Homo sapiens: one gene and its partner. The protein of the gene in region 1 interacts with the protein of each later gene in a pairwise test. Each region holds a gene or a part of one and is shown in the gene's direction. Other genes may lie near its edges.

Region 1 (4,608 bases):
GGAGAGAGAGAGAGAGAGAGAGGACAGCTTACGCCATTATTTCTGTGTATCAGAGACTTTTAGTACTTTCACTAATTTTGCTACTGCTATCTAGAAGGCAGAGCCAGATGTACAGGATGGAACATGAAAGTGAAACAGGAGTGTGACCGCTGAAGTACAGCGTCACAGGGAGATGTTTAGGCCTCCAGATAACTGTGGGCGGGCCTGACTGATGTCAAGCCCTCCACAAAAGGTGGTGGAGTAAAGTCTTCTCTAAACTCCCCCTGGGAAAGGGAGACTCCCTTTCCCGGTCTGCTAAGTAGCGGGTGCTTTTCCTTTGCATTGATGCTACCGCTAGACCACGGTCCGCCAGACCAGGGTCCGCCAGACCACGGTCCACTTGGTAACCGGCGTCTTCCCAGACGCTGGCATTACCGCTAGATCAAGGAGCCCTCTGGTGGCCCTGTCCGGACATAACAGAAGGCTCGCACTCTTGTCTTCTGGTCACTTCTCACTATGTCCCTTTGGTTCCTATCTCTCTATGGCCTGGTTTTTCCTAGGTTATGATTATAGAGCGAGGATTATTACAATATTGGAATAAAGAGTAATTGCTACAAACTAATGATTAACGATATTCATATATAATCACGTCTATGATCTAGATCTAGATCTAGTATAACTCTTGTTGTTTTGTATATTTTATTATACTGGAACAGCTTGTGCCCTCGGTCTCTTGCCTTGGCACCTGGGTGGCTTGCCGCCCACAGAAACTAAGTCAGATAACTTGCCAAAAGCCACACTGCTGATGTGCAGCGCACCCGCTTCACTGCAGGTGGAAGTGGAAGTGAATAATAACCTTCCTGGAAGGCAGTCTGCAAGCCCATATTGACAGCTGAAAAATATTCATTCCCTTTCACCTAGTGATTCGACTCCCAGGAATCCATTCTAAGAAAACAACCAGAGTTGAGCCATTTCGTTCTTGGCAGCACATGTGAAACAATGGCACATCCATTATGACGCTGGGCTCTGGTTGCGTCATAATGTACGTTTAGTATGTGGAGTGACAATGGGCGCTAGCTCGTAATATAATGCTATTAATAAACGAAAAGAGATACAAAAAATAGTCATGATATGCATATATATTGCAATAAACCATGATTTCTGTGCGTGGTGGGATGGTAATTTTTAATTTCCACATTGAATATTTCTGTTTTCTACTTATTAGTTTGATAATCGGAAACAAAAGCCAAGTGTCTTTGTTGTTTGTGTGTTTGATGCTGAGTTTCCCGGGCAGCAGGACTGGGAGGTTGAGTGGGGGTTTTGGCTCAGACCGGGAGCAGAGCGGCGGGTGGGGAGCGGCAGGCGGGCAGGGTCCCCGGAGGCCCCCGGGCTCTGCCCCTCCAGCTAGAGAGGCAGCCGAACCCTAGCGGCCTGGAAGGGGCCGGGAAACCGCGGCCAGCTGGCAAGGAGTGGCCCCCGGGGGCGGGGCGCCGGCGGGTGTGTGAGTAGCCCGCCCGGCCCGGGTCCGAGTTCCAGCCCCGCGATGGCCTCCGCGGGCAGCACCGCTCGGCGGGCGGGCTCCGGAAGCTGGCACTCAGAAAGGGGAGAAGGGAGAGGTGCTCGGCCGCAGCCAACTCCAAGTGGCTCCATGCAGCAGGCGAACAAAGTCTCCTTGAAGGCCACCTGGACTGACGCGGAGTCCAAGCAGCCCAGGTGGGTAGCGGGAGAAGGTGTCCCGGCTGCAGGGAGCGAGAACCCGGCCCAGCGCCTCCCTGGTGGGCAGGGCCTGGAGCGGGCGGGGGCGGAGGCTGCGGCCCGAGAAGCCAGCAGAGACAGGCTGGGGCCAGGGATCGCCTCCCGAGAGGTGCCTAGGCCGTGGCCCAGAGTCGCTTCCCCACTGCCCCGCCCACCAGCCAGGCGGGGGCCAGGGATCGCCTCCCGAGAGGTGCCCGGGCCGTGGCCCAGAGTCGCTTCCCCACTGCCCCGCCCTCCAGCCAGCCCCTGCCCGACCTCGCAGACCACCTCAGTGCGCAGGCGACTGCCCTCGCCAGGCCGCGCCGCCCTGCCTCGCTCACCCCGCCCCGCGCTGACCCCAGCCCCAGCAAGGAGTCCGACCAGACGGCAATCGACCAGACGGCGATCGGGAGCTACTACCAGCTGTTCGCAGCGGCTGTGGGCAACGTGGAATGGCTGCGATTCTGTCTGAACCAGAGCCTCAGGGAAATCCCCACCGACGACAAGGTAAGGTCTTGAGTGTTGGGGCAAAGACCGAGGTCCCTCTCCCGCTACGCTGCTCGGAGTGGTCACCTGGAGAAGAGATATCCTTTTCTGGGTAGATCTTCCTAATTTAACTCATCTTCTGGCTGTGGAAGGACCATTTTGGGGGCAGGGAGGTTGGGTGGGCTGATGAACACACACTGGTTAATTAGCAAAAGGGTGTGAGCATTCCTGGGGACACAGGGAAGAAAGTGAAGGTAACCCCAATAAATTTATATAAATTGTGGACCCTGGGACCTCAGTCCCACTCAGCCTCCTCCTGCCTGCTCTGAACCTCACAGGGCTTCACTGCCATCCACTTCGCCGCCCAATGGGGCAAGCTTGCATGCCTGCAGGTCCTGGTAGAGGAGTACAAGTTTCCCGTGGACCTGCTGACCAACAATAGCCAGACACCCCTGCACCTCGTCATCCACAGGGACAACACCACCGTGGCCCTCCCCTGCATCTACTACCTGCTGGAGAAAGGCGCAGACCTCAATGCGTGAGTCCAGCCTGCTTCAGGAGGGAGGCTTCGGGCACAGGCACGGGCACAGCCCTACTTCCAGGCAGGCAAATCCATGCAGGACAAGCAGAGGGGTTGCTGGAGGTGACAAGGATTGGGTCCCACATAAAGCAGTCAGGAATCCACATGGTGTAATAAAGAGACTGGGCTTTAGCCGGGCATGGTGGCTCATGCCTATAATCCCAACACTTTGGAAGGCCGAGGCAGGCGGATCACCTGAGGTCAGGAGTTCAACACCAGCATGACCAACATGGAGAAACCCCATCTCTACTAAAAATACAAAATTAGCAGGGCATGGTGGCGCATGCCTGTAATCCCAGCTATTCGGGAGGCTGAGGCAGGAGAATTGCTTGAACCCAGGAGATGGAGGTTGCGGTGAGCTGAGATGGTGCCATTGCACTTCAGCCCGGGCAACAAGAGCGAGACTCCGTCTCAACAAAAAAAAAAAAAAAAAAAAGATTGGCCTTTAACAGACCTAGTCTACATCCCAGCTCTGCAACTTGCTAGCAGACAGCAGGACCTTAGGCAAGTCACTCAACCTCTATGCCCCAGTACTCTGGCTCCCAAACTTAGGTGTACATTGGAATTACCTAGGGAGCTTAAAAAATATGAACACCTGGCCGGGTGGCATGGTGGCATAGTCCCAGCTACTTGGGAGGCTGAGGCAGGAGAATCGCTTGAACCCGGGAGGTGGAGGTTGCGGTGGGCCGAGATTGCTCCAATGCACTCCAGCCTGGCAATAGAGCGAGACTGTCTCAAAAAATAAAAAATAAAAAAAATTAGGCTGGCCGCAGTGGCTCACGCCTGTAATCCCAGCACTTTGGGAGGCTGGGGCGAGCGGATCACGAGGTCAGGAGATCAAGAACATCCTGGCTAACATGGTAAAACCCCGTCTCTACTAAAAATACAAAAAAGTTAACCGGGCGTAGTGGCGGGTGCCTGTTGTCCCAGCTACTTGGGAGGCTGAGGCAGGAGAATGGCGTGAACCTGGGAGGCAGAGCTTGCAGTGAGCCAAGATCGTGCCACTGCACTCCAGCCTGGGCGACAGAGCGAGACTCCGTCTAAAAAAAAAAAATTAAAAAATATAAACACCTGTGTTCCAATCCAAAGGCTGTGATTTAATGGGTCTGTGGTGTGACCTGGGCTTGGGAAGTCAGAAAAGATCCCCAGGTGCTTCTAACTTGAAGCTAAGTTTGGGAACCTCTGTCTCAGTGTCTTCAACTGAAACTTGGGAGAATAGCAGTACCTATCACATGGGACTACTGTGATCACTGAAAAGTGCATGGCATATAGGAGACTGCATTCATTCAAAGTATCAAGTATGCACTATGTGCTAAGCACTATGCTAGAGTCACAGAAATGGTCCCTCTCCTCACGAAGCTGACATTCTAGTAAAGGAGCAGACAGTGAATTAGCAAACAAATAAATGAACAAAATCCTGACAGAGCATGGGAAGTGGTTATGAAAAAATAAACGGGGTGATGGTGTAGGGGGTAAAGCAGGTAGGGGGAGGATCTATTTTGGATGAAGCAATCACCTCTAAGGAGGTGACATTTAAATTGGAACCTGAAGACAGAGTGAGCCAGCCATGCAAAGAGCCAGGGAAAAGTGTTCCAGGTAGAGGTAACATCATATGCAAAGACCATGTGTTGGGAAAGAGTGGGCAAGGTCAAAGGATAAGATCGAGGAGGTTAGGCCCAGGTCATGCAGATCTTGTGGGCATACGGAATCTGGTGAGGCATAGGGAAAGGGCAGGGGGCTGGTTGGTTTAAGAGTGGATGAGGTTAGTGGTCTCTGAACCAAGCCAGCTCTCCTTCCAGCAGTTCTTAACTATCACATACCTTCTAAAG
Region 2 (3,809 bases), on another chromosome or scaffold:
CTGAGGTGGGAAGATCACTTGAGGCCAGGCATTCAAGACGAGCCTGGGCAGGAAAGCAAGACTTCGTTTCTATTTTTTTTTTTTTTTTTTTGAGATGGAGTCTTGCTCTGTCACCCAGGCTGGTGTTCAGTGGCGCCATCTTGGCTCACTGCAACCTCTGCCTCCCGGGTTCAAGCGATTCTGCCGCAGCCTCCCGAGTAGCTGGGATTACAGGCGCCTGCCACCATGCCAGGCTAATTTTTTTGTATTTTTAGTAGAGATGGGGTTTCACCATGTTGGCCAGGCTGGTCTCAATCTCCTGACCTCAAGTGATCCGCCCGCCTAGGCTTCCCAAAGTGCTGGGATTACAGGCGTGAGCCACCGAGCCCAGCCCATTGTCTCTATTTCTTTTTTTTAAGAAGTGGCAGGAAGATCAGAGAGAAGCAAAGGGCCTCTCCTGAGGCACGGGCAAGCACTTGCATTGCAGGGTACAGCTGCAGAGGAAGGGGATTGGGACGTGTGAATAGGGGTTCTGGAGGCTAGGGTGAGGTGTGAGGGTGACTCTGGCCTTTGGGCCATTTCATGCCTTCATGTCAGCTGCTGGTTGGGCTCCTGGTGGCCACATTCATGCTTTGGTCCTGACCCCAGGCAGGCTGGTGTCTGCCTGTGTGGCAGCCCTGGTGCCCATATCAGTTGGGGAGCCTCCTTTGTGGTCACCACTCTTGTTCTTGGGCATCAGCTGGTTGCCTGGCTGTGTTAGTGACCCAGCCCACAACAGCCCCCTACTCTACCCTGGCTACATGCAGTGCCCATCTCTGGGGTCACTGCAGAGTAGACCTGGCTAATGCCACCCTCTCTTCCGGCTGCCTTTCAGGAAGACCATGCTCAATGACCTCCTGCGGTTCGATGTGAAAGACTGCTCCTGGTGCAGGTGGGTGGCCCCGTGCTCCAGGGCCCTGCCTTTCCTCCTAGAACACAGTGGCACAGTGCTGGGTCCCAGTTGCTAGCAGAGTCTCTCTCATCATGGGAAGCTAGAAAGAAGCTTCCAGGAGGAGATAACCACGGCCTCAGGGATGCCACATCCAGAGCCGCCCTGTCAGGCTGAGGAGATCAAGTAACCACCCCGCACCTGCAGCTGCCAAGCTGGGCACACAGGGCGGCACCCTTCTGGGCTGTCCACCTCTACCTCGAGGCTGATGCTAGTATGGGTACAGAAGTTGCTATGTCTTTTCTCTCACACTTGATTTTGTAAGATGGCTAGTAGTTACAAATTAATTTAAAAAATCATTCTGAAGGCTTCACAATTATTTGTCAAAAATTGCTTAAGTATAAAACTCAGAAAAAAGCTAGGAGTTCAAGACCAGCTGGGCAACAAAGTGAGACCCTGTCTAGGAAGATAGATAGACAGATGATAGATAGATAGATAGATAGATAGATAGATAGATAGATAGAAAGAAAGATAGATAGATGATAGAAAGACAAAGAGAGATGATAGATAGATGATAGGTAGATTAGACAGATAGATGACAGATAGATAGATAGTGGATAGATGATAGATGACAGATCGATAGATAGATGATAGGTAGATGATAGGTAGGTAGATTAGATAGATGATGGGTAGATAGATGACAGACAATAGATGATAGATGATAGGTAGATAGATGATAGATGACAGATAGATGATGGATAGATTATATAGGTAGATGATAGGTGGATAGATGATGGATATATAGATTATATAGATTAGATGATTGATAGATGATAGGTAGATAGATAGATGATGGTTAGATAGATAGGTATTAAATGAAATTGATGGACCCCGTGCTGTAAGATGCTGCACTGCTGCTGAGAGCAGGAGTGTGGATGGTCCTGGAGTAGCATGAGGACCTGGTCACATTCTGTGAGTGGAATAAGCAATTTACAAAATATCTGCCACTTGATTCCATTTTAAAAAATTTCATGGAAGCCTAAGTATGCGTAGGAGAGGTGTGCAGGGAAGACCTCAAGGTGTTGCCAGAGGTTTTCTGGTAATGGGAATTTGCATGAGCTTTAGTGCCTATTTTGTTTTTTCCTTATTGGTGATTTTTTTTTTTTAAGTTTCTATGATGAGACAGGTATCACCTTCAAAATACAAAAGTGAAACGTAGCTGGGCGCGGTGGCTCACGCCTGTAATCCCAGCACTTTGGGAGGCTGAGGTGGGCGGATCACCTGAGGTCAGAACTTCAAGACCAGCCTGGCCAACATGGTGAAACCCCGTCTCTACAAAAATACAAAAAATTAGCTGGGCATGATGGTGGGTGCCTGTAATCCCAGCTACTCAGGAGGCTGAGGCAGGACAATCGCTTGAACCCAGGAGGTGGAGGTTGAGCCGGGATCGTGCCACTGCACTCCAGCCGGGACGACAGAGAGAGACTCCGTCTCAAAAAAAAAAAAAAAGAAAAAAGAAAGGCAGCACAGGGATGCAGGGCCACCCTGTGGGGGTGTGGACCTCATGGGTGACCCCCGCTGACTCTCACCACCCCTGTGCCCACCCCAGGGCCTTTACCACTGGGACCCCACCGGCCCCCCGTTACCACCACTCGGCCGTCGTCTATGGGAGCAGCATGTTTGTCTTTGGTAAGCAGCCTCTTGCCTCCCAGGGGCTGTGTCGCCCCGAGGCCCACAGACACCCTGCCCTTCTGCAGGCCTGGGGCATTTGTGCTCGTGCTGTGTACAGCAGGGGCTCTCTCTCCACCCGTGGCTTTGTCTGCCAGTCTTCGGAATTCTGCGCTGGATCTGGGACCCCTTGCCCTAACGGCCCTGAGCTCACAGGGTTGGGTGTCTTTCTGTGTTACTGAGCTGTGGCTGGGAACAGTGTCCTGCTCATCTCTGTGTCCCCAGAGCCCAGCACAGAGGCAGACAGGCAGCAGGTCGTTCCGGGGCTTGTGGAAGGAGTCCTGGCTTATGCATTTTCAGGGGGGCCAGATTCTGCTCCACCTTCCAGGGTTTGAAATCTCCAAGACTGCCCTTTGGGTTTGACAGTTTCTCACTCTCTTTACTCAGGGGGTTACACTGGGGACATTTATTCCAATTCTAACTTGAAGAATAAAAACGACCTCTTTGAATACAAGTTTGCAACTGGCCAGTGGACGGAGTGGAAAATTGAAGGACGGTGAGAAACTTTGCAGAAACATTTGGGACAGGCTGGGTCCTGGGTGGCATTGGACCTGGGATCTGCCCCCTTTTGCCTCCCAGATGAGGACCCTGAGGGCACGCAATAGCAGGGAGCTTGGGATTGGTGGAATATCCCCCGGTGCAGCTATGCATGGCCTGCTCCCAGCCCTTAGACTCCCTCCTTTCAGAAGAGACCCAAATGGACCAGGCGTGGTGGCGCATGCCTGTAGTCCTAGTACTTTGGGAAGCCGAGGTGGGAAGATCACTTGAGCCCATGACTTCAAGGCTGCAGTGAACCATGTGTGCCCCACTGCACTCCAGCCTGGGAGACAGAACAAGACCTTGTCACAAAAAAATGTTCAATAAGATCCAATGTACTGCTGATGGCGCTTCTGGGGTCCCGCTTTTTGAGCACCCCCTTTGATATTTTGGGGGCACCTAGGAGAAGGTTCTGTGCCTCTGTGGCTGTCTGAATTCCTCTTCAAGCCACTAGTCGGCCTCTGGGGCTGTTGTTTATTCCTAGTGCCTTGTGGAGGTCCTGAAGCCCCAGTGTCGGGTGGATGTAGCCATGCAGCCTGGCTGTGGCCCCTGCACTGACCACATGGGGCTGGGTGGCTCAGGTCTGTGCTGGGCGGCCTCACTCCCTCCCCTCTTCCCTCACACTCCAGGTTGCCAG

Evidence for each region.
Region 2: the proteins of ANKRD53 (region 1) and LZTR1 interact in a two-hybrid assay, tested with the Homo sapiens proteins (one large-scale study listed by BioGRID and IntAct).

What each region holds. Positions count from the first base shown.
Region 1 is NC_000002.12:70,977,124-70,981,731, forward strand, and holds the start of ANKRD53 (ankyrin repeat domain-containing protein 53), read left to right. Parts: upstream 1-1,506; 5' UTR 1,507-1,522; coding exon 1,523-1,692; intron 1,693-1,973; coding exon 1,974-2,220; intron 2,221-2,537; coding exon 2,538-2,737; intron 2,738-4,608. UniProt on the Homo sapiens protein: Required for normal progression through mitosis. Involved in chromosome alignment and cytokinesis via regulation of microtubules polymerization.
Region 2 is NC_000022.11:20,984,988-20,988,796, forward strand, and holds part of LZTR1 (leucine-zipper-like transcriptional regulator 1), read left to right. Parts: intron 1-853; coding exon 854-910; intron 911-2,516; coding exon 2,517-2,596; intron 2,597-3,022; coding exon 3,023-3,131; intron 3,132-3,801; coding exon 3,802-3,809. UniProt on the Homo sapiens protein: Substrate-specific adapter of a BCR (BTB-CUL3-RBX1) E3 ubiquitin-protein ligase complex that mediates ubiquitination of Ras (K-Ras/KRAS, N-Ras/NRAS and H-Ras/HRAS).